5 separate regions of the Homo sapiens genome follow, and regions 1, 2, 4 and 5 are each linked to region 3. Evidence: fine-mapped expression QTL. A gene starts in region 3. Each other region holds a variant in brackets. All regions are shown on one strand. Distances are between the middles of the regions. Region 1 overlaps ACO1 (aconitase 1). Region 2 overlaps ACO1 (aconitase 1). Region 3 holds the start of ACO1 (aconitase 1). Region 4 overlaps ACO1 (aconitase 1). Region 5 overlaps ACO1 (aconitase 1).

Region 1 (4,897 bases), 56 kb before region 3:
CCTGTTGGCGGGTCAGGGGCTAGGGGAGGGATAGCATTAGGAGGAATACCTAATGTAGATGATGGGTTGATGGGTGCAGCAAACCACCACGGCACATGTATACCTGCACATTCTGCACATGTACCCCAGAACTTAAAGTATAATAAAAACACAACAATGAAATACAGCATACAAATAAACAAAAATGTTTGCATATATTTTGTAACCTTTGCCTTGCTACCTCTATAATTCTCCATTTACACCATGTTTTTAGTTAATGTCAGAGTGAAAAATATCACTACACTCATACTACATTCTATCAATGTATAAGAAATGACTTCCGTTATAAAGCGAAGGATGATAAACCTAAAAATCGATCAGCATATGCACATCTGGAAATACTCTGGAGTTCTATTTCTGAAATATTAGTATTAAATACCAAAGAATTGTTTAATTATCTGATGCTGTTGCTTTAAGTAAACTTTTTATTATTTTACTTCAAAGTCTAGAATATCGATAATGAGATGATTCATAGACAGTGATGACAGTAACCTTTTACCTCTGTTATATCTTGAAAAGTCACTTGGTTTTGTGGACTTTTATAGGCCCTCATTTCCAGTAATTGTGTGCTATATTTCAGTGAAATCAGATGTCTAATGTCACAGGAGAAAAAGATGCTTCAGCCTAATTTTGCCATACATCTTCTAGACTGAAGGTCACAATGAAGCGTTTTTTTTACATTAACTTTGTACTCTAAGGGAATTACATCTTGAATACATCTAGGATGACAGAAAATGGCTTAATAAATTTTCAGTTAGTGGTCCTTATTTTTGCCTCATAACACCGTGCTTTCTTCTGTTATATTGCTTTGTAATTGTCTATTTACTGGTCTGTGCCCTACCCCAAATTATAAGCTTCTTGAGCCGGTGATTGTTAAAAAAACAAAAATAAACAAAAGACTTTGTAAGTTAGAACTGTTCTCACACCTAAATTATTTGTAAGTACATATTAATATTTTACATAAAATGTTATCCTCTAGTGATAAATAACACAATAGCTAGTCTTCACTGATTGCTCATAATGTAGAGGCACTATGTAAGCACTTAAATAATTCCTCTCATTCCACCATCCACTAACCCGGGGATGTAGATGCCCTTATTGTCCCCCTTTACCCAGGGAGTCAGTGCTGGTATCTGGTAATTGGACCCATGAAGTCTGACAAATGATATAACATGTTTTAGCAAAGTTACATTGTATCTGGAATCCACATCACAAAACAACATAAAATTTTTCCCTTGATTTTTTTCTACTATTTTAGGTGTATCAGCAGGCACAGAAAGTTCAATCAAAAAAGCAACTTTCAGAACATACCACAGATAAAGTAAATGATTACCTCTTGTGTACTGCTTTTACACTTCCTGCTTCAAAGATGAAATTGTGTTGAATATAGTCTTGATATTAAGCTTAAAGTATGTTTTATTGGGAATCTATAATTGGCAATATACAGCAATAAAGGATGGTACTCCATTAACTAGAACTCCCCATTAGTTTATTATTAATAATTAATAACTGTCATATAATATTAAAATACCCTAAGAGGTCTCTTGGTATCTAGGGCACACTTTTAAGATGCCCAACACCAGGGTCACTTTAGGAGCTTGTTGAAAACATAGATACTTGCGTACTACCCCAGATCTGCTGCATCAGAATGTCTTGCAGGGAGCGTGGGGTGGGAGGGGGCTAGTGATTCTTACAATTTTGAGAACCGTGAACTATAGCGCAATGGTTCTCAACCACTGCTGCATACCAGAATCAGCAGGGGAGGCTTTTAAAATCCCAATGTCCAGGCCTTTCTCCTTACCAATTAAACCAGAATCTCTGGAGATGAGATCCAAACACAGGTATTAAAGTATTAAAAAAAAAAAATCCCATAAGTGTTTCCAAACTTGAGACGCACTGCTACAGAGAGAGGGCAGATTCTTTGGGGCGGTAGATCTTTTCTAGGGTTTTAGGGATAGATGGATGTATTCTAGGGAGGTAGAAAGCTTTCTAAACACACCCTATTCATGTCACTAGCTCTGTGTAAAGGCCATGCTGCTTTGCTTCAGAAGCTGTAAATCATAGCTGTCCACTGCTCTCTGTAAGTACAGTCCAGCACGGCTACGTGGCCCAGCCTGGACAGCTACAGAACAGAAGACTGTATGGCTTCCTGGGCAGCCAGAACTCAAGCGGTTCTATAGAAAAGTCTGGACTCTAGAGAACCCCTGGGGGCCAGTTCTCTTCTTATCCTCTATCAGATCTTAGAGTTCCCTACCTGAGTGCTGACTGCCTGGGTTGCATTTTGGCTACAGCTCCCAACCCCCTTCCTAAAATCCTTTTCTTCTGCAATTATCTGGTTCTTTTCAATAGTTTCCAGAAAAGACAGGCCTTTGACCTACTATCAACTAATCAGAGAACATTTCTATTTTCCTCAGAGCAAAATAACCAATTAAAATAATAGGTGTGATGTTCAAAGACATTATCAGAAGCCTAAATGTCTGGAGAACTGCCTGCCAGACAGCCACATTTTTTTACTGTACTTGTGGATATGAACTTAGTGTTTCCGAGGTGCATTAATTTGCGAGCCACAAATGATTTAAATTGACATCAGGTAAGCCATGTGTACCCCACCCTGAAGATTCAGGCTGGGTGGCATGATTCTTCTCTGCTTTTAGGGCAAGCAAATGCTCAAGAGGCAAAAGCTCTCTGCTCCCTGCATGGCCCCTTCTATGGGGACACCTCAAGAGGTAGAGCCCCGAGATGGCGGAAGGTTCTAAAGAGCTGCCTGGGTATGTGCAGAGTGAGTTTCACTCTCAT[C/T]GAGAGCCCATAAGCAGATATTCATAGGCAGTGAAGTGCAATTATAAAAAGTGATTCTCCCAATTTTCCAGGAGACTTAGAACCCATTCTTGCCAAAGTAACTCCTGAAAAAGTCCAGGCTCCTTTTCTCTTCTGTGAAACTGACAGATAATACAATGGCCCTGGCTTATTCCTGACATTCACCTGGAACAAGGGACCTGAATAAATTTGGGGTCCTCAGCCTCTGAGAATGTTATAAAAGCCATGACACCTCTCCCCATGAAAGACATACATGTATACTTCTGGATATGTTTTCAGAGACTTCACAGACCCTACCCCAAAACTGTTCTATAGACATGCCCCCAAGGTCCATTAATGAATGATAGATCCAGTTCAACTCTGCATTGCCCTTCACCAAATAAAATAAATCCAGAGGCACCAAGAAGCAGGCCAGGAATAAACACTACCTGCTTTTTTGAGCTTGCTCTTCCTTGACATCTTCTTGGAAAGTAAAGCAACAGGATTTGTGCCTGGGGACCCTCCCAGTTCAGAGGGGAGCTGCCTCCTAGGATGTCTACTTCATACTCACCAGCAGGAAAGGGCCCTTAGCTGCCCAGTCTCGGGAGCTGCCTGCACCGTACTCTTTGCCAGCCAGAACGATCAGGGGAAGGCCTGCCTGCTGGTACCGCTCAGCAGCATCAAACACATCAAGCTGAGGAAGAGAAAAGGAAGTTTTACAGATGCAGGAGAGGCAAAGAATGGACACAGGTCCCCTGAGCCCTGGTGAGGGCGGGGCTGGATGGGTTTGCAGATGGCCAAATCCGTCCAATCATCTTGTCTACAAATTCCCAATTATCTTGATCTTTTTACTTCTACCAAATTAAATTTTGTATTCTTTTTTTTTTTTTTGAGATAGAGTTTCACTCTATTGTCTAGGCTGGAGTGCAGTGGCACGATCTCAGCTCACTGCAACCTCCACCTCCCGGGTTTCAATTGATTCTCCTGCTCCAGTCTCCCAAGTAGCTGGGATTACAGGCGCACACCACCATACCCAGCTAATTTTTGTATTTTTAGTAGAGATGGGGTTTCACCATGTTGGCCAAACTGGTATTGAACTCCTGACCTCAAGTGATCCTCCCACCTCGGCCTCCCAAAGTGCTGGGATTACAGGCGTAAGCCACTGCATCCGGCCTTAAATTTTGTATTCTTAAAAACCATTTTATATTCTTTTGACAGAAATGCCTAATTGTTGTTGGTTTTATAAAAACATTAGAATCCTAAGGCATCAGGGGAGAAAAGGAAACTAGATCAGATTTTTTCTTTTCCATTGACTAAATTATTTTAAAACTCAAAAAACAGAATGTGACCTAAACATTTTGGCTCAATATCAGAAACTCGGTGATGTCAGTTGTAAAATTAGCAAAACACAAAGAAGGTAACATGTTCTGAAATTATATAAAGTGCAAACTTTTATCAGTCCCCTTTCTTCATGGAGGTCAAGGGAAGAGATGCTAGAAATGCAAATGGAAGCCCAATAAAAGGTAGAAAAAGATTAATATTTTAGTACATGAGAAACATCTTATACAAACAGATTTGTTTCTCACAGGGAATCTGAATATCTCACTGAACTGAGACTTTACAAAGACATGATATCATCTCTGGTGGTTGAGCAGTACCATTATTTTTCCAGGCTATGTAAGTCAGAAGATAAAATTCCTCAAAAGAGAGACAGGAGCTAAAGAAAACTCTCAAACAGACTTTCACAAATTTGTATTTTGGTGTACTGATGGAACCTGTGGTTAATTTCGCATGCATTACCTAAACCCGGATAGGATTCTGTATGTCTTCAGCTAGACAGAACTCGTAAATATAGAAACTGTCATAGAAACAGTGAAAACCTTCTTCTAACTGAATTGTCTGGATCCTTTCAAAGACCAGAAAGAAACAACTTATCTGATATTTTCAGAGACTGTAGCTTTGGGTATTAACAATGTGAGAGTGTGTGCTTTAAAAAGTACTGCAAAGTTGACAATCTCATGGCAAAGCACGTCATGTTACCCAAGATCAGAGGGACTAAGCAGGT
Region 2 (4,897 bases), 25 kb before region 3:
TTATGGCTACTTTCCTAACTTCTGAAGTGGGTCTTTATCCTATCTCAAACAGGATAACATTTTACGCATATATTTTAAACTCTTCCATTTGAAACCAAAACATTAAACTGAGTTCACGTGATTTAGGAAAAAAGGAAGGTTGGGGAAGACATATTGCCTTAGGACAGGTTCAGAGTCCAAAGGAAAGGGAAGAGTTGGCGAGTACATGGTCTGTTCCAAGTACCATCAATTCAGGGGACAAAGTAGATTTCTCTTTATCCTGAATTTATCTGGTTTGGATGTTAGCAATATTAACTGGAGAAAGATCATTTTCTAAATTTCTTTTGAGGCTGCCAGGAACTCAGTTACATCCCCAAGGAAGCAAATAAAGGTGTTTTTGTTTCCCGTTGAGTGGTTTCATATTCTTAAGTGACTTAATTATAAAAATAATAGCTTCTTATTAGGAAAATGAAGACAGTTGCAATCCCTGAGATAACTGCTTAGCAACTTGGCACCCTTTCCAATCTTTTAATTCCTGCATCATTTTCCATGTAGCTTATGTCACTCTACATATGCAATGTAGCATCTCGCTCGTTGAGCTACAATGTGATCATGTTCCAAGTGTTATTAAAGACTTCATAAATTAAACTCTAAAGGTTACCTAATGATTCACTTCAGGGGTATACCGTAATTTAATAAAGCATTTTTTGTTGGACATTTAGAATGTTTCTAGGCTTCATTTATAAATAATACTTTAATAAACATTATTGGCCATTAAGCTTTTTCTGAAGTCAGCTATCCAGATTAGCTAGATGTAATGGTGCATGCCTGTGATCACAGCTACTCGGAAGGCTGAGGTGGGAGGATTGCTTAAGCCCAGGAGGTCAAGGCTGCAGTGGACTGTGATCACGCCACCCCGGTCTAGGGAACAGAGTGAGAACCTGTCTCAAAAAATAAATAAATAAATAAATAAATGATATAAAGGGTATGCTTGGAAGTAGGAATTCCAGGACAAAGGATATAGAAATTTCTAAGGTCTTAACACATATTGCTTTAATCCTCATTTCTAATTTATAGTGCTATCAGCAGTGTATAAAAGTGTCTCCCTTATAACACCTTCATAATTAATATTTTCTAATCTCAACTATATTGATAAGAAAATGACATCTCAAATATTTACTTTTTTATTCCTTGTGAGATTGAAAAACCTTTATATACTGTTTACTACCATTTGCATTTCCTTTTATTATGAAATGTCCACTTTCCTTTGCCCATTTATCTTCAGGGACCTATTATTTTTCTAAATGGATTATAGACACTCCATATATTAAGTATATTAACACTTTGCCATATTTTTCAAGTTATTTTCTCTTAACTTTGCAGTAACTAAATCTATACCTTTTTTCCGTGTTTCATTCGTTGCTTCTAAATTTAGTCTCATCAAGACATCTGACACGCATACATTTCCTTCTAAAACTTTTAAACATTCATAAGAACTGCTCCCTCCACTAATCAATTTCCAGCACTGTATATGGAAAAGTTATTTCTCCCACTGATAGTTGTTTTGACAACTTTAGGTAGTCATACTTCTAGGTTAAGATAATAGCCTCTTAAAAATACCTGATTGCCCTCCCTGTATCAAAACCCTTGTGGTGTAATCTTGAAGTTACTTCCACCGAAGACGGGTGGACTGTATTTCCCCATTCCAGCTTTGGGCTCAACCATGTGATTTGCTTTGATCAATGGCACCGTGAACAGAAGTGATGCTGTGCTGGTCCTTAGCTAGGCCTTAGAGATACTGTGTGTTTTCACTTGCCCCCTTGAGTCTCTGTGGTCACAAGACAGCTGCTTTCTCCTTTAGCTTGGACCCCAAAAGAAACACACATGGAACAGAGTTGTCCCGGCTGCCCTGCAGATGTATGGTTCAGTGTAAGCTCCCAACCTGGCTACTGCAGTGCAAAGCAGAGCTTCC[T/C]GACTGTGCTCACCTAGGTCAGCTGACCTCCCAAACAACTAGAAGATGTGTAAGAAATAAATTCTTACTGTTGACTGCTGTTGAGATTCTGGGACTGTTATACAGCAATAGCTGATTTTTTTTACACCCATCTCTACATTGAAATCTTCACGGTTTTGGCTGGTACAAATTCTGCCTTTTGGAGAAAAGGACAAATGGTAGAGTTTCTTCTGACTTCATTCCCATCTGTTGATTACCATTTTGAGCCAAAGGGCAAAGATGACTAGATTCTTTTTTTTTCAAGTTTAACTTCATCAGGTACTCTTTTTTTTTTGAGACGGAGTCTTGCTCTGTCGCCCAGGCTGGAGTGCAGTGGCACTATCTCTGCTCATGGCAAGCTCTGCCTCCCCAGTTCACGCCATTCTCCTGCCTTAGCCTCCCAAGTAGCTGGGACTACAGGTGCCCACCACCACACCCAGCTATTTTTTTTTGTATTTTTAGTAGAGATGGGGTTTCAACATGTTTGCCAGGATGGTCTTGATCTCCTGACCTTGTGATCCGCCCACCTCAGCCTCCCAAAGTGCTGGGATTACAGGCGTGAGCCACCACGCCCGGCCATCAGGTACTCTACTCTTATAGGCCTTATCAAATCACTAAGTGCTTCTCTTAGATTCTACTATTTTCTATGCCTTTTTGTGTATCTTACAAAAGACTGGGGCTTTATAACAATGTTTAATATCCTGATGCCATTTTAACCCAAAGACTCACTCCCAATACTTCCAACGTAAACCAAAGGCTTTTAGAGAGTGAGATTTAGGGATAAAAGCTCATTAAAATAAACTGAGTCAGGAAAATTGACCATTACTACTTGGCTCCTAACCTCACAAAACTTAGTCATCTCTTCAATGGGCTAGGATTACAAATGGTACACATATTTTGATTAAGAAGTATTCACTTTCAAAGTTTGTTAAGAGGTCAGGCCTAAGTTGCTAGTTCACAACTGCATATTCACATGTTCAGTTCTCTTCTTTGTAACACATTTTATTAAGATTTTTTTTTTTTTAAAGACAAGGTCTCGCTCTGTCACCCAACTGGTATGCATGGCCTAACCTTCTGGGCTCAGGTGATCCTCCTGCCTCAGCCTCCTAAGTAGCTGGGACCACAGGCACACACCACCACACATGGCTAATTTTTAAAAAGTTATTTGTAGAGATATGGTCTTCCTGTGTTGCCCAGGCTGGTATCAAACTCCTGGGCTCAAGCGATCCTCCTGCCTCAGCCTTCCAAAGTGCTGGGATTACAGGCATGAGCCACTGCACGTGGCCAACGAAGACATTTTAATATGCACACCTTTGGATGCTAAGGATGTGGGGATGGATTTAAAAAAACAAAAACAGCAACAAAAAACCTATCCTCAGAGTTGTTTAGTTTTTCCCCACCTAAAGGTGTCATAGACCATTAGGTGTCTATATTCAGGCTTACCAAGATTCTCACTTAATCGAAGAATAATTTCAAGGTCACTCAATTTAGGATATTAAATGCCTATTTATCTGCTCAGCTCTTGCATTCAGGGAGCTGAGAGTCTACTTACCAAGTCAACTCAAGTGACAACTTCCCTTCAAGGGCTACAGGCCCACTCAGGACACTAAATCATCTGGCAAACTGAAGAACAGGGAGCTTCGTAGGCTGGAAAGTAAAGGATTCCTAACAGAATAAGATTTAAGCTGGCCTTGAAGGACAGGTAAGATTTGGCAGGAACAGAGGAGAGGATGTCCCAAACAAAAGAAGAAACACAGGGAAAGAAAGGGATAGGCATTATGGAAACCCACGTGAAGAGGCAGAGATCGCTAGATATGCAACAGTTACTTGGGATCAAAAAAAGGAGTAAGCTTCCAGTGGATGAAAAAGCTCAAACATATACTTGCACTGACATATACTTGTGTTGACAAGCTCTCATGGCAGAACTTCATGTGTGTGTGTTTTCACCTAGACTTCAAGTCAGATTCAAATGCAGGCTGCTCCCACCCAAGAAGTAAAAACAAATAAAAAAAGATTAAAAGAAAAATCCACCCACTCTTCCCCCTAAAACATCTTTACTGCGAAATGTATATGAAGTTTAAGTTTTTCAGAAGATATCTTTGAAAGATTTTCTTCTTTAACTACATATACACATTTTAAAAAGATTCGTGTTCAAAGATTTTGCACAAAGCAGAACACTCAGGTATTCGTTTTAATCTCTCACCTTCTGTTGAAATCAACCTGGATGGAATGATCTATTACAAGATCAGCAGGGCAGACAGGGTTTATTTTCTCTGGATCTCCTCCTAACTTTTTCACAGCATCACGCATTGCAGCAAAGTCAACCACAGCGGGCACACCCCTAAGAGAAGAAAGAGAATAATGCAGAAAATAAGCCTTAAATGTGTGTAACTGGATTTTTCAGCTTTTGCCTCCATTGATAATATTGACAAGGCCCTACCTCATCAGAGGAGCTAACAATGGGTGAGACTTAGAAAAGTGAAAGTTTCTAAGCGTATTTCCTCAGGCAGAAATCACATAGGTAGTAAGTACCATGACTGGGTGGTATCTCTATGTACAATGTTATCACCGTATTAAATTTAATAACGGCTATGTTCTAAATACAGCAATGATGGGAAAGCTGGCACTTAACAACTCTGGAACTCTTACTGCTGTGAGTGCTTCCCATTCACATGGTGGCTTGACAAAGACCTGGAGAAGACTTTCAGATCACACCTTTTCAGTTTTGACCAGATTTCAAGGAATGGATATAATTCAGAAAAGTTGGCTGTGAATCAAATTCATGTTAAATGAATCTCTCTTTTTCGCTTAAAAGTATAACATTTTGGTGATCTTCCTCTAGAAAAATGAAACTGGGTCTCTAGAAGGAATAAAATAACATCAATTAAAAATGGAAATATAGTATCTCAACAAAGATGCTGCAATGGG
Region 3 (4,897 bases):
TTTAGAATATGATGAAAACAGATTTTTTTCCTTATCAAAAATTTTAGAGGACTTGAATCATACACCCTATATCTAGGATCTTTGTCTAGGCTAAAGAGTCTGTTTTCTACTAAAAAAACAAACCAAAAGCACCTTGGCTCAGACAATAGCAGTGTCAGCTGGCAAAGGTTTAACAACTTGAACTCCAAGAGGAAAAAAAAGCTCTGATGTAGCATTTGCCAATTTCCATGGTGTTATTATTCCCACCATGGCTTATTTCAATCTAAAAAATGTGTTGCCACTGAACACGGAGTTAGGAAGAGATATGCACAAATGCTAGTATAAACCAGCTCTGAAACCACTGGCTCCTTGGGACACTTACTATCAATGGCCTAACTCCTCATTTTAAAGTCAAAGACACTGAGACCCAGAGAAAGTGTCTTAACCCGAGGCTGGCCCAGTGACTGGCACCAGGTTGGAGGTAATTTCCCTGTGAATCTGGCTGCCTCACAGGAAATTACTTCCTATGTAGAAGGAAGAGTGGGGGAAAGAAGGCAAAGGAAGTTCTTTGCCAGGCACGTGGTGATACACGTTGGTTTTTATCATCATCTTCACAGTGTGGGACTGGTTTCTTCAGCACATGCCTTTGAAGCACACTTTAGGTAGGGGGTACTGCTCTTCACACAGGACCAGCTTTCATGTACACACTCTGACTATATAATAGACTATCTCAATTAACCAGCAGTTATCAAAGCTATCAGACCATAATTGCCAGAAAGACAGGGACTGCATCTTTTGTGCTCACTACTTTCCTGGCATCCCGCACATAACTGGACACATGAGAAATAGGTGGCCAATAAAAATCTACTGAAAGAATGAAGGAATGAGACCCCACCATCAAAGTGGAATTTTTTAATACAAAGAACACAGCAGGTGCTCAGAGTTTAGATCCCATTTCCTTCTCCTGTGGACTTCTCCTCCTCCTCACCTGTGGACTGTGCAACACACACAACACGCTCATGTGCATGCAACATTTCTCAAGTATCGGCTGTAGCATTTAAACTGATCCATCAGAGCACAAGAGGCTCTATGGATGAAGGAACAAAAGGGAGGATGGAGTTAGAAAATTTCTTCCTCCCAAATATATACACATAACATCTGTCTTGAACTTGTTCTGACAAGGCACGAAGCTAAGGAAAGAGTCCCGTGAAGGACCTCACCTACCACACTCCAGGATGGTGGAAACTGCTTTTTGACAGGGGCTGAGGAAGCACCACTCAGAGTGACACCCTCTGAAAGTGGAAAGTGAAAGAACGTCAAGACTGGAAATCATTATTCCAATAAACTCAAGGCTAATAACCATGCAACTGCAAACAGAAATGAACACGTGCAAGGGAAGGCAAAAGCATGCCTCCTTGTTCTTTTGGAAATAACTTCCTGACTACTTGGTAACTCTCACAGGAACCCCTACACACTTGGCATGGTCTCCCCACTGGCACTTTTGTGAGCCTACAGGTCCTGTTTGCCACATCACTGTTGTAATCCTGATGCACAGACAGGTCAGCTCTGCAAGCACAGAGACAACCAAAGGCATGTGCGAAGCCTTGCTGACTTTTCAGGAGGCTGGCAAGGTTCATCACAGCCTCACGTGGGGACCTAGTACATGGTTTCCAAAGTGAGATCAAACTTGGTTCCAGATACCAGAGGTTAATACTGTCCATGGCATGAGGTGGTGTGTGTTCCCAATCAGAGGAAGGATCACAAACAAGAAGCAGGCCCAATGAATGAAGCCTCTGAAGCATTTCCTACACCAGCATCCTCAAAGTGTGGTGCAGAGAACTCCTAGGGATCTCCAAAGTCAAAACCATTTTCCTAGTAATAAAATGTTACTTGCTTTTTTTCATTCACACATTTTCAGGAGTATACAGTGGAGGTCTCAAGAGGCTACATGATATGTGATATTGCAACAGACTGCAGAAGCAGCTATCAGAATCCAGCTGTCTTCAATTACGCTTGACATCAAAGAGATTTGCAAAAATGTAAAACAATGCCACTCTTCTCAATCATTTTCTGTTTTGGGAAATATAGTTCTTTTTCATAAAAATAGGCAATGTTAAGATATAATTAGTTCACTATTCTTTTTAAATGAATTATTATAGTACAAATTTCTCAGTCTTACTTACATATTATAAATATGGATAGATATAACACACATAAAAGCTCCTTAAGATACTAATTTTTAAGAGTGTAAAGGAGTACTGAGTACCAGAAAAGTTTGGGGACTTCTGTCCTAGAGGTTGTCCCCCAGGGAAGAGAGTTACATGTGTTGCAAGAAGGAAGATGCCATTATGATGTGCTAGCTGAATCTAGAAAAAAATGACTTGGTCATAACTGCAGCCCAAGCTCCTTTCTAGATCTCTGAATCTATCATGGTGGGCTCTGTGTTCAAGCCTCCCACGAAGGGTCTCTTCCCCCTCATCCCATTTTCCCTTTACCCCTTGGAGTGGATTCCCGGATCTGCCCGCACAACTTTAGCAAGGGTTTCCCTATCCAGCCAGCCGGGCCTGGGCGAGGACTCCCAGTGCGGGCCTCACACCCTCGGGGTTAGGACTCCCAGGACTGGCCGCACACCCTAGGCAAGGACTTTCAGGACAGCACGCACAGCCAAGGCTAAGAAGGGTCTAGGAAAGCCACTTCCAATCCCTGGTTTCTCTCCCCGGCATGACATAGACTGGGGACAGGGTGGAGACGTCAGTCGCCAGAAACACGTCCCCGATTCTCCTCTCAGCCTCCCCAAGCTCGCCTCCGTGTCCCCCGTGCCGCCACTGCCTCGGGCACCTCGGTAAAGGCCCGCACCGACTCTCGAGGGATACAGGGTGGACGGCGCTCCCGCCTGGGGACGTGGGTCGGGCCGCGTCGGTACTCACCTCCGACTGCACGGCGGGGCTCCCGCGACCGGCGAACCTGACCCAAGCAGCGGGACGCGTTCCCGTGCGCTGCGCGGTTCCAGCTGCCGCCTCCACGCTCCGCCCCCTCTCGCCCCCGGGGCCGCCGCGCGATGGGCGGAGCAGGGGCGGGAAGGGCGGAGCAGGGGCGGGACGGACGGGCAGCTAGCCGAAGAAGGGGCGGAGCCTGCGGGCGCCCCCGCGGGCCTGGAGGACTTCGCCCCGGGCTGGAGGCTAGGGTTGCGAAGGGCTCCTCCGCTGGAAGTGGGAGGGCTGATCCCTCGGCCCGGGTCCGCTTCTGCCAGCATGGGACCTGGGACGAGGGTGTCTGTTGCTCACTTTGGAGCTTAGCATGTGACTCCCCAGCCGGCGTTAGGAAGTGACCAAAGGGTGGGGAAGAAATGGAATTATTTTTAAAAAATGATTTGGCCATAACTGGAGAGGCTTCATGTACGTGTGGTCACTTGGCCCGCCTCCCTTCTCACTTTGTCCGTCCCCACCCTACCCACCCTCTCCACCCTCGCCTTAATTCTTTGCGCAAAGCCTGCCAAGTGGACATCGGAGTCACGCTGTCAGAATAGGACTTCAGCATTTCCGTGGCAAAAGTTCTATATGTAGATTTCCTTGGACATGTAACAACACTTTCTAATGCACGATGTTCACCGGTCTGAAGTCGGAGAAATGGCTGGGAGATGGCAGCAAGTGGGCTTTCACAAGATCTGCTTTTCATGTTGGTAGGAGTTGTGCCCTCTTGGGTGAATGGCGTTCAAAGAAGTGATTAGATCTTTCTAGATGAAAGGTGGTGAGGTTTTCCTGCCCAAATTATTTGGAAAGTTACTGTAGTTTTCTGAATAAGCAGCTTATAGGATGAGTAAACAATAGCCAGTACTAATAGCCCCCCTGCTACTTTATACTGCCCTCCTATTCTGCACAAAGCCCTGTGATCGACTCTTTCCACGTTATTCAGTTCAGCTCTTCCAACCACCTTACAAGTAAAGAATATTACCCGTCTTTGCAGGTGTGCAATGCGCAACAGCTGAGACTCAGTCCTTAGGTTGGTTTGACACCAAAGCCTACACCTTCCCTGTCATACTGCACTATAGGGTACAACTATCGTCTAGTTATATTTAACTTTGAAATATAAATACTTATATTTATTTTGAAAGGGGAAGTAACTGTATTTCCAATATGAGAGGAGACTGTTTTCCCACCCACTTCCTAAATCCTTTCCATTCACATTAGTAATTAAATTTTCTTTGAATGTCCACCATATGGCAGAGGTGCACCACAATCCCTGAAAAATCATGCTCCAGTCCCCTTGGGAGGTAGGGAGAGTAGGGGCAAGGTGAGAGTGAGTAGAAGGCTGGGGAAGTCCGATGAGGACACATCCAGCTAAATTGCGATTCTTAATGAGGCAGCCATTCGGAAAGCAAAGTATCTAATGTTCAATGATAACATCCGTGTAACTGAGAATCCTTCGCAGAAAACAATCAAATCAGAGCTATGAAGGGAATTGAGATTTATTAGTAAGCACGCTGGTCAAAACCGTGAAGGAAATAGTTCCACATCCCCCCAGTCTGTTGCTCTTGGACGTTGTCACCAGTGACGTGCAGATCGTGAATCCCAGGGCCTGTCCTCTGTTCCTGTCCTTACTCACTACTCTGTGGTATTTGACACTGGCGATTCGTTTTCCTAGAAATGTTAACCTCCTTTTGGCTTTTCAGCCCTCCGCTCTTAGGAGTCACCTCTTCCCTCTTTTGTCCCTCTTTTTTAAGGTCTTTCCCTACACTCTCTCCTCTTGCTTTATATGTTTCTCCATTTGCTGAGTTTTTCTTCATCTATTTTCTCAGTATGCAGACTGCCTGCCACTTCTAGCTGAAGCCTGCTATGTCTCTGTCATTGGTCTTAGTTAACTTTCTGACCTTCACACTCTTGATTTGCAGCCATATGTGGCAACCCCACCTGGATATTCC
Region 4 (4,897 bases), 50 kb before region 3:
TGTTTTGAAATAATTTCCTCTCTTGCATTTTTTCTGTTCTCTTTTTAACACTTCTATTTAGGCAGGTTGTTAGGGCCTCCTGAGTTCAGTTCTTACATTTTTTTCTCTTATCTTTCTGTTACATATTCTAGGAAATGTTCTCAACTAATCACCTTCTCCTTTGAATTTTCTTTTTAAATTTAAAACATTCTTTCTTGTCTTCTGATTGTTATTTCATAGCAACAGAAAATGAACTCTTCTCTAAGTATATAATTTTTTTCTTTTACTTTTTGCACTCCCCATCACCCTGTTCAAGTCTTGACTCAAATGTCTGTTCATCCTTGATTCTGTCTCATTTAAGATGAGGTTCTAGACATCTGACTAGAAGTTCTATGTCATGCAGGGCTTGTAAATGCGTGTGGTACACTGTGATGTTTATTAGGGGTCCCCCAATGTCTATAACTACAAGTCTTTCCCCTTGGTCTCTAAGGTATTCCATCATTCGACATGTATCTTTTTACATTTAATATTCTGTAACCTCTGCTATCCATTGAACAGGCGTCTGCTGGGCTAGGTACTGGTTATTTCTAAAGAACGAGTTTGTGTTACAAAAATATAATCAGTTACGAGTGAGGCAGTATGTGTGGTGGTAAAGGGCACTGACTTCAGAGCCAGACTTTCTGGGTTTTAATTTCAGCTTTTCCACTGTGTGACCTAAAGGAGTAATATGACCTCTTTATGCTTCACTTCTCAATTTAAAGCACAGATAATCATGGTACCTACCTCAAGGGGTTGTTATGAGCATTACATAAATCAATATATGCCAAGAGCTTAGGAGAACACCTGGAATGTAGTTAAGTGCCATAGACATATTAGCGATTATTATTTTAAAATAAGTCGGCAGGGTTATTTCTCAAGTAAGTTAAACAGTTTACAGGCAATTTCACAGCACTCACTGGGAAGGGAAGTGACACTAAGGACCTATGACATGTACCAGACTCTATGCTAGGTTTTATATTTCATTCCATTTCATTTTAAGCCTCAGAGCGTTCTTCCAAGGTAAGTAGTATTTTTACTTCACAGGTGAGAAAAGCAAGGCTCAGAGATGGAAATAACTTTAAGGCTCCACAGCTAGTATAACGTGGAGCTGGGAACAAACAGTCCCTGCTGCAACATACTGACCACAGTGCTCCCATTAGAACCAAAACATGCCTCCAAGCACCTCTCTACTCCTTCTTTTCATGTGGATTAGATGAATTAAATTACATGCCAATAAAGTCATACAATAGCACTTCTTGATAAATATCCTTTAATTTAACCTGGTATTTCCCCTTCGAATACTTTAAATGAAATGTCACTCAAAGCTCAATTCCTAAGAAAAGAGACTCAGTGAAACCACGGTCTAGAATCTCTAAGCAAGAAGAAAAGGTTTGAATTTGTCAATGATACATTCTATGCATATGGACACCTGGCAAGGAGGACTGTAGTTAGGGTAGGATGGAGCTGTGAAGAAAAACTAAAACCAAAAGGCGAGTAACTGTAAATATCCAACCTCCACCAAGGCTGACAAATGCTAGTGTCTGCAGGAAGCAGAAGACAATACTCACGATTTCCCCAGAAGGCAGATGGATAGTCTGTGGTGCCTGCTTGTTCAAAAATCTGTTTAACAAGCGAATGTTGGCAAATGTTCCCCGTGCCATGACGGCGTCATTACCTCGGCGGGAGCCATAGGAGTTGAATTCTCGTGGAGTTAGGCTAAGAAGGCAAGCAAGAAAGGAGCTGGCTTAGTGAAGCAAGCAAAGATTAACCTTAGCTTACACCAAGAAAAGAAAAAAACAAAACAAAACAAAACATAGACCTGGCTATTTCTCTAAGTCTCCTAAGCATTGTTCTCC[A/C]TGGCAGAAAAGCTGTCCCCAAAGCTTCAACGGAGAAGAGAGAGAGGTGAGAAGGGGTGGTGAGAGGCATAAGTCAGTATTCTCCTGGGTTAATTGTCTTTCAAATCTGGTTAGAAAAATAAGAAGGAAGTCTAAAAAAGAATGTTTTATTTGTTAGTAGGGTAGCCTATAAAGCTTCATATAAGATAAAGAGCTAAATTAAAAATAAGTGAGAAAATGGAAGCAAAGGGAAGAATTAGGGTAGGCAAATCAGATGGAGCCACAAACAGGGGGAAACACAAAATACGTTCCACAAAGTAACCAGAAATAGTTTCAAATTTGTCCCTGAATTATCAGGAACTCAATGCAAAGGAAAGACACACAGCTGGCAACATAACTTACAACTTTCATGAGAGAAAAATCGAGGCAGTGCTAAAGAGGCAGAACAGCTATTTCTGGTCCCCAAACCAGAGGAAATCTTGTCTGTGGGGCCTCAGTGAAAGGAAACTTTGCAGTGTCAGGAAACATACCTTACAATTAACACCGTGACCAGTTCACTGAGCTGTTCCTTAAAATACTAGGGGGTGGGTGTGTTAATATTATTTAATCAATGGTTAGATAGAATTTAAGGACTGAGAGAGTTTAATGGGTTACAGGAGCAGGTGAGTATGTCTTGGAATCCCTGAAACTATCCAAAATGTTGTGGGTATGTGCATTTTTCTGGGAAGGCATTAGATTTGCTTTCATTCAATTCTCTGACGTGTTCATGCCTCAAAAGGGCTCAACAATCAATAGAAAAAAGGCATTTGGATTCTGTTCCTCAAATTCGCTCTGGGGAATCACTGAAAGAACTGATTCAGCAGATGGGGATAGAAACCAGGAATTTTTATGTCCTCACGTGATTCTCGTGGAAACTCAGATTGGGGAACCACTGACCTCGATTAATATATGAGACAGTAGTTGATAATACTGGCATACCTATGAATATCAGCACACTACTGAAGAACTGATAAACAGATGAGTAAGCTGCAAATCCTCCAAGCAGTGCTCTGTAAACGTTAGGTTTCTCAACCAGGACCTGGCAATGCGTGTCAGGTTCTGCCTCTGCCCCAGGTTAAGAGCAGAGCCTTGTACTTTAAAGATCAGCCAAGCCGGGGGCAGGGATGACAGTTGGGCCTAATATATACACTTGCTCAAATGAAGGTCCCTCTCCCCTTCCCCTTGTTAGGATTCACATGTTGATCGTTTCTCCCATGGAAGCTGTTAAGCAGCAAACAGAAAATGCAATTGGTTTTTACCCCAGGGTTAAGCCTCAGTGCACAACCAAAGAGTCTCATTCCAAAGGGCCAGGTGAAAAGAGAAATGCTGGCCTCATTAACTCCATTCCTCCATTTTTGCCTTTAGTCCTTCCTGCCTCATTCATACTTACCCTCTGTTAGTTAAGTAGCGAGCAGCAGGACTGTTTCTTGCAATATTTCCAGCTGGGGAGATGTGGTCAGTTGTTACCGAATCTCCCAAATTTAGCAGCACATAGGCATCCACTATAGATTTAGGGGGCTGAAGATCCAAAGTCTAGCAAAGAATACAAAAAGTCAGCATTGGCCCAGGTTTTCCCAAACAAGTTACCAGATCAGTCTCTACGATGGTGGCCCATGGACCTGAATCAGAGGACAGTTCCACACCAATGCACAGAAAATTCTAGTGTTCTAGTTTTTATCAAAGAGGCCAAGAAAAGTAAGGTGAATTTACTCAAAACATTCATATCTTACTCTTGAAGAAAAGGTAAAATACTGGCAATATCCCCTCAAAAGCAACAGTAACGCAGCTGCAAATGACATTCTCTCTCTTCACATCCCTAGAACTCCTCAGATGCTAAGGACAACTGGAATCCTCACTTCTACTGCATCCCTTCCCACAGTGACCCACCCAGGAGAGCACCAACTTCTAGATCATCAGTTTCAGGGACAATGTCCCTGGTTTTTATGGGTATAAGGTTCACTATGGTGGGCTCTGGGGATGGTCTCCTGGGACAGTCCCTCAGACTCTACTAGGTTTAAGTCCAGGTGATTACTAGGGTGGCTGTGTACATCCACGCAGAACCCCTGCATAGAGAAACTATAGACCCACGGCAGCCAAATATCCCAGCCTCCCAAAACTTTCCCCAGCAGTATCTGCTTGGGTTTGCAAAGGGTTTAATAAAATGGGTAGTCAAAGCAAGAGCATGGGGTAATAAAGTAGATATTATTAGGAAAGAAACCCTTCAAAGAATTCATTTTGTTAAAAAATAAAAAGCCATACCAGGTTTTCAAAGAATGGTGGTGATTTGATATACGTAGATTTGGAATTCCAGAAAAACAGCTTATCTGATGGGGTTGCTAAGGCATTCCAGCTTTCATTCACAGTCTTAAAAAAGAAAAGAAAGGCAGATCTAATCACATCCCATTCCAGAGAAAATTTAATATGCAAACACAAAACATACATTCAAGCTAAAAGGTACACTAAGAACCATTTTTATTCTCAATAGCCACATACAAGAGTTCCTTTATACTAATAGTGGGTCATGCTAAGTAACTTAAAAATCCAGAGACACTGTGGGCTGGGCATGGTAGCTCACATCTATTAATCCCATTACTTAGGGAGGCTGAGGTGGGAGGATGGCTTGAGCCCAGCAGCTCAAGACCAGCCTGGGCAAGATGGCAAAACCATGTCTCTACAAAAATAAAAAAAAAATTGTCTGGGTGTGGTGGCATGTGCCTGTAGTCCGAGCTACTCGAGAGGCTGAGATGGGAGGATTGCTTGAGCTCAGGAATTTGAGGTGGCAGTGAGCTATGATGACACTACTGCACTCCAGCCTGGGTGACAAAGCAAGACCTGGTCTCTGAAAAACAAACAACAACATACATATGCACCGTGATAGGCAGCTTCTAGGATGGCAGGAGGGATCCTGCCTCCTGGGATTCACATCCTTAGTTGACCCCCTCCTGTTGAGTGTGGGCTGAAGCTAGTGACTATCTCCTAGATTAGATTATTGAGACCTGCCTTCT
Region 5 (4,897 bases), 68 kb before region 3:
GTGTGAAAACAGACTAATACACTATTGTTTAAGAACTCCAATAGGATGTGTAAAACATCTACTAGAAATAGATTTAATAAGATAAAAGTTATTATTATTATTTTTTTTTCTGAGATGGAGTCTCACTCTGTTGCCCAGGTTGGAGTGTAGTGGTGTGATCTCGGCTCACTGCAACCTCTGCCTTCTAGGTTCAAGTGATTCTCCTGCCTCAGCCTCCCACATAGCTGGGTACAGGCACCCACCACCACACCCGGCTAAATTTTTTTATTTTTAGTAGAGTCGGGGTTTCACCATGTTGGCCAGGCTGGTCTTGAACTCCTGACCTCAAGTGATCCACTTGCCTCGGCCTCCCACAGTGTTGGGATTACAGGCGTGAGTCACCATGCCTGGCCAAGAAAAGTTCTTTTAAGTATGTAAATGATTCAATTTGGATGAAGGTGAATAGCCCTATTCAGCCAACTGAGGCAGGCAGACTGAAGTGAAAATAAATAAGGAGAACTTAGCATTTCCTTGTTTGACTTTTAATGGAATAATGTCATTGCCAGGCATGGACTCAAACAAAGTAGGCACTTGGTTAATATGTATTGAATGAAAGAAATGAGCAGGTAGGCTTTTAGGAAGTGGATCTTTTGACTGACTCCCAAATGCTGGTCATTGCATTTCTAGAACAAAGGCCACATTTTAGAAACAACTGGGGAGTCTTTTTCATGGACACATGCCCAGCCCCATTAGAGCATCCTGGCAGGGTGTCCAGCCGTGTATGTTTTGAAGCTCCTGTGGTTCAGACACAACCTGTTACACAACTACCACCTTGTTATCTCTGTGGTCCTGGCCTGTGCTGATGCTGTGATATTTTCACCCTGAAATGAAGAGTCATCCCAACATCAAGGTCAGTAAACCAATTCCTGTCCTTAAAATGGATTCATTATTATTTGAATTTCAAACAACAGACCAACCATAGCTCAATGTTTCTCAAGAGTATCCTGTGGAGCACAGTGCGTGAACGCCCAGAAGAAAGCAGTCTGTGGTCAGGTGGGTTTCTGTGCCATTTGCTGCCACCTTCCCTGCAAACAGTGATTTACAGCACACATTGTTCTTGTGTCTGTTCTGCAGTGATAAAACCCATTTAACTCAGTGGTTCCCAAATGTACTGACCGTGGAACTGTTTTACTCAGGGGACACTGTTAACATCCTGTAGAAGCACAGTAGCAGGTATCCAGCCTGCATACGATAAGACAACCAGAACCAAATTTGGCAGGTACATGTCTGGAACTCTGTTTCATTATGCCGTAAAATAAAACTACGAATTTCATTCAACAAATCTGTACTGAATAAGTAGGCTTCACTCTTGGGATGTCAACTTTTAAAACTTACTTAATATCAGCTATCGTTATATAATCTTTGTTCATAATGACGCTGTCTGGTTGAACACAAACTGGCTGGGTGTTAAATTCCACTTGTGTTTATGATATTTAATAATGTCCTAAGAAGGCAGCCAGTAGAACCTTGGCTACTGTTTTTCAAAAGTGGCTCTGCATTGCTCCTACATAACCCCGTACATTACTCCACAGTCCTGTTAGAGCCCTGAAAGGGAAACTGCTAAAAATAAGGTTCTTCATTTAGGTGACTAGGAACTCCCAATATTTTTGCCCTAGGGAATACTGGGAGACAAATCTCTACGATCACAAATTACTAATGGTTTCCCCAGAACTGCTGGTGGCCATATCCCCTGGCATGTGGAAGGGCCCAGAAGAGGCCACTCTACTGCAGAGGCCAACAGAAGGTATGATTGGTGGAGGGATGGGGGGGTGGTTGGAGGGGCAAATGGAAGGGAGCTTGAGTCACTAGATCCAATCAAGCCCATAGTCATGGCCACCACTGTCCTCAAGTTCTATGAGCCAGCTTTTTTTTTTTTTTCCTTAAGCTAATTTGAGCTGTGCTTCTACCACAGCTAAGATTCATGCCTAATATATCTTTTCCCTAGATTACTCCCTATGTACCATAAAAATCTGGTGTGTAAATACACATGAAGGGCATCCCTCATCCTTATTTGCTATATTAAAAATATTAACTAACTCTTAGCTTGCTGCGGATGCCAGGAATGCAGTAATGAATTTGGAAAACTATCCAAACAAACAGGGGAATCTTCATTCGCAAAGAATATGGGAGGGAGAACAGCAGATTTTTAATTTGGATAGTAAGACGAGCAGCCCTTAAAGAACCAGGTAAAAGAAGTTGGTTTATTTAGGCTTGTTAGTGGGCAAGGTTGAGACACTGGCCAAGATACTTTTTTTTTT[G/TTTG]GGGGGGGGGGGGGTGGTGATTGATTGATAGGGTCTCACTCTATTGCCCAGGCTGGAGTGCAGTGGAGCAATCATAGCCACGACCTCCCAGGCTCAAGTGATCCTCCCACCTCAGCCTCCTGAACAGCTGGGACCACAGGTGCACACCTGGCTGATTTATTTTATTTATTTATTTATTTATTTTTTTTTTTGTAGAGTGTTGCCCAGGCTGGTCTCAAACTTCTGGGCTCAAGCAACCCTCCAGCCTCGGCCTCCCAAAGTGTTGGGATCATAGGCATGAGACACCGTGCCTGGCGAAGATATTTTTACCGAAAAGGACAGAGGGTGTACTTGGAGGTAAGGGACCCAATTCCATTAGTCTAGCCACAATAATGTGTTTGTTTCCTCATAACCACAGTCTTGGTTGGGCTGCTGTAACTAAATATCAACTGGGTGGCTTATAAACAATAGAAATTTCTCACAGTTCTGGCTGGAAAGTCTAGGTTCAAGGCACTGGCAGATTCAGTATCTGGTGAGAACCCACTTTCTGGTTCACGGATGGTGACTTCTTGCTGTGTTCTCCCATGGCAGAAGAAATGAGGGGGTCTCTATCTTATCTTGAGTCTCTTTTAAAAGGCACTACCCTCATGATCTAATCACCTTCCAAAGGCCCCAGCTTCTATTACCATTACCTGGGGGGTTAAGGTTTCACCACCTGAATTTTGGGGAGGATACAAAAATACAGACCACAGGAGCCACTGAATGCGGGGAGCGAGACAGCTCCCCAGCTGCTCAGTAATGGAGAGCTGAGAGGGTGGAGGTCTGTTTTCTCAGCCATTCTTAGTGTTTTTATTCTAGGACTGATCTTAACTTGAGGATCACAGGTTTTTTTGTACAATGGAGTTCTGTTTGTTTGTAATTTTTTTTTTTTTTTGAGACGGAGCTTTGCTCTTGTAGCCCAGGCGGGCGTGCAATGGCACGATCTCGGCTCACTGCAGCCTCTGCATCCCGGGTTTAAGCAATTCTCCTGCCTCAGCCTCCTGTGTAGCTGGGATTACAGGCACACAATACCACACCTGGCTAATTTTTTGTATTTTTAGTAGAGACGGGGTTTCACCATGTTGGCCAGGCTGGTCTAGAACTCCTGACCTCAGGTGATCTACCCACCTCGGCCTCCCAAAGTGATGGAATTATAGGCATGAGCCACTGCGCCTGGCTGTTTGTTTGTAATTTATTTTTTAAATGAATATAAATAAGATCCCCAGGACCGCAAGTGCAGGGATGCTAAATAACCTGTCTTGATCCCTCATCTGGTGAGAAGTAGAAAGAGGATTAGATTCCAGATGTTCTGATGACCAGGCCATATCCCCTGAGTGCTAAGGTTGACATTAAAAATTCATTACAAAGATCCTGCCCTCCTGTCCTTGGACATCACAGCTCCTGCTTGTTCCTGGGCATTCAGACTCTGGGACTTATACCAGCATTCCCCATGCCCCTCCCCAGGTTCTTAGGCATTTGGACTTGAACCAAGTTGTTATACCACCAGCTTTCCTGGGTCTCCATAAGAGTGGGACCCTGATCCAATACAATTAGTGTTGCTGTAAGAAGAGACATGAGAGCCTATTTTCTCTCTCCCCCACCAGGCACATACCAAAGAAATGCCATGTGAGAACAAGCAAGAAGGTGGCCATCTGTAAACCAGGAAGAGTGTCCTCACCAGAAAATGAAGTGGCTTCAACTTTGATCTCAGAATTCCAGCCTCCATAACTGTGAGAAAATACATTTCTGTTCTTTCAGCCAGTCTATGGCATTACATTATAGCAACCCAAGCAAACTAAGGCATGCCCAGAAATGACTACAGGGGTAAAAATGAGCAGATAATTGGTTTTTAGTGTCCTGAAGTTTATCTGCTTTTCCTTATGTACTTATATCGTTGCCACTGCCACCAGGCTACTCTTCCTTCTTGTCTGCTCCCAAACAGGGAAGAGCGAGCATAATGGTTCCTAAACATTTCCGTTATACCCGTACAGTTCTGATAGAGTTGTAAAAATGGGAGAATATGAAGGTTATTCAGGCTTCCCAATGATATGGTGTGAGATTCACTCTGTACTAAATATCCCAAAACTCTAGCCACAAACACAGCAAAACTCAAAGTCAACAAGTTTTCACTGAAAATAGATTTCATTTCATTCAAATTAGAAATGTGTTCTCCCAAACCGCCTCCCAACAAAGGTCTCTGCTTGATAAATGAAAAGATAGTAAAAGAAAACTTCACATTTCTTTTTATGTGGATCTATCAAAAGGTACATAATCAAAACAACTTTAACACCCGACCTATCCATGAGGAGTCTGGATGATTCACTCTGAAGGAAAAGGGGAGAGAAGAGAGAATCACTGCTCTGATTTGAAGTGTGCAAAGTTCTTATCTATGTCACTTAACACTGGTATAATTAATACAGAAAGGAAAATGACCCTCAAGAGGAAGGTTTCATTGAGCAGAGCGTAAGAGGAACAATAAGAGGGTAGGAGACACCTCCTGAGAAGGTTTGCTTGTGTTCAGCTGAAGATTAATAGGAAACAGTGAAAAAGCAACGTCCTGTGATCAGTAACTTTAAAGACAA

Evidence for each region. PIP is the estimated chance that this variant, and not a neighbour inherited with it, causes the effect.
Region 1: its variant is fine-mapped to the expression of ACO1 in skeletal muscle (GTEx, PIP above 0.99).
Region 2: its variant is fine-mapped to the expression of ACO1 in unexposed skin (GTEx, PIP 0.92).
Region 4: its variant is fine-mapped to the expression of ACO1 in cerebellum (GTEx, PIP above 0.99). The same link has a PIP of 0.9 or more in cerebellar hemisphere.
Region 5: its variant is fine-mapped to the expression of ACO1 in whole blood (INTERVAL, PIP above 0.99).

The regions. Positions count from the first base shown.
Region 1 is chr9:32,439,094-32,443,990 of GRCh38, reverse strand. It overlaps ACO1 (aconitase 1), which reads right to left. Exons shown (of 21, transcript NM_002197.3): 19 at 3,404-3,526. Among named protein-coding and RNA genes, the nearest start is that of ACO1, 57 kb to the right of the region's middle. The variant C/T (reference allele first, on the strand shown) is at 2,836.
Region 2 is chr9:32,407,927-32,412,823 of GRCh38, reverse strand. It overlaps ACO1 (aconitase 1), which reads right to left. Exons shown (of 21, transcript NM_002197.3): 4 at 4,173-4,310. Among named protein-coding and RNA genes, the nearest start is that of ACO1, 26 kb to the right of the region's middle. The variant T/C (reference allele first, on the strand shown) is at 1,952.
Region 3 is chr9:32,382,745-32,387,641 of GRCh38, reverse strand. It overlaps ACO1 (aconitase 1), which reads right to left and starts at 2,999. Exons shown (of 21, transcript NM_002197.3): 1 at 2,907-2,999. RefSeq lists a silencer at 2,819-3,198.
Region 4 is chr9:32,433,087-32,437,983 of GRCh38, reverse strand. ACO1 (aconitase 1) reads right to left here. Exons shown (of 21, transcript NM_002197.3): 16 at 4,152-4,256; 17 at 3,283-3,425; 18 at 1,587-1,734. Among named protein-coding and RNA genes, the nearest start is that of ACO1, 51 kb to the right of the region's middle. The variant A/C (reference allele first, on the strand shown) is at 1,875.
Region 5 is chr9:32,450,378-32,455,274 of GRCh38, reverse strand. It overlaps ACO1 (aconitase 1), which reads right to left. Exons shown (of 21, transcript NM_002197.3): 21 at 506-4,897. Among named protein-coding and RNA genes, the nearest start is that of ACO1, 68 kb to the right of the region's middle. The variant G/TTTG (reference allele first, on the strand shown) is at 2,298.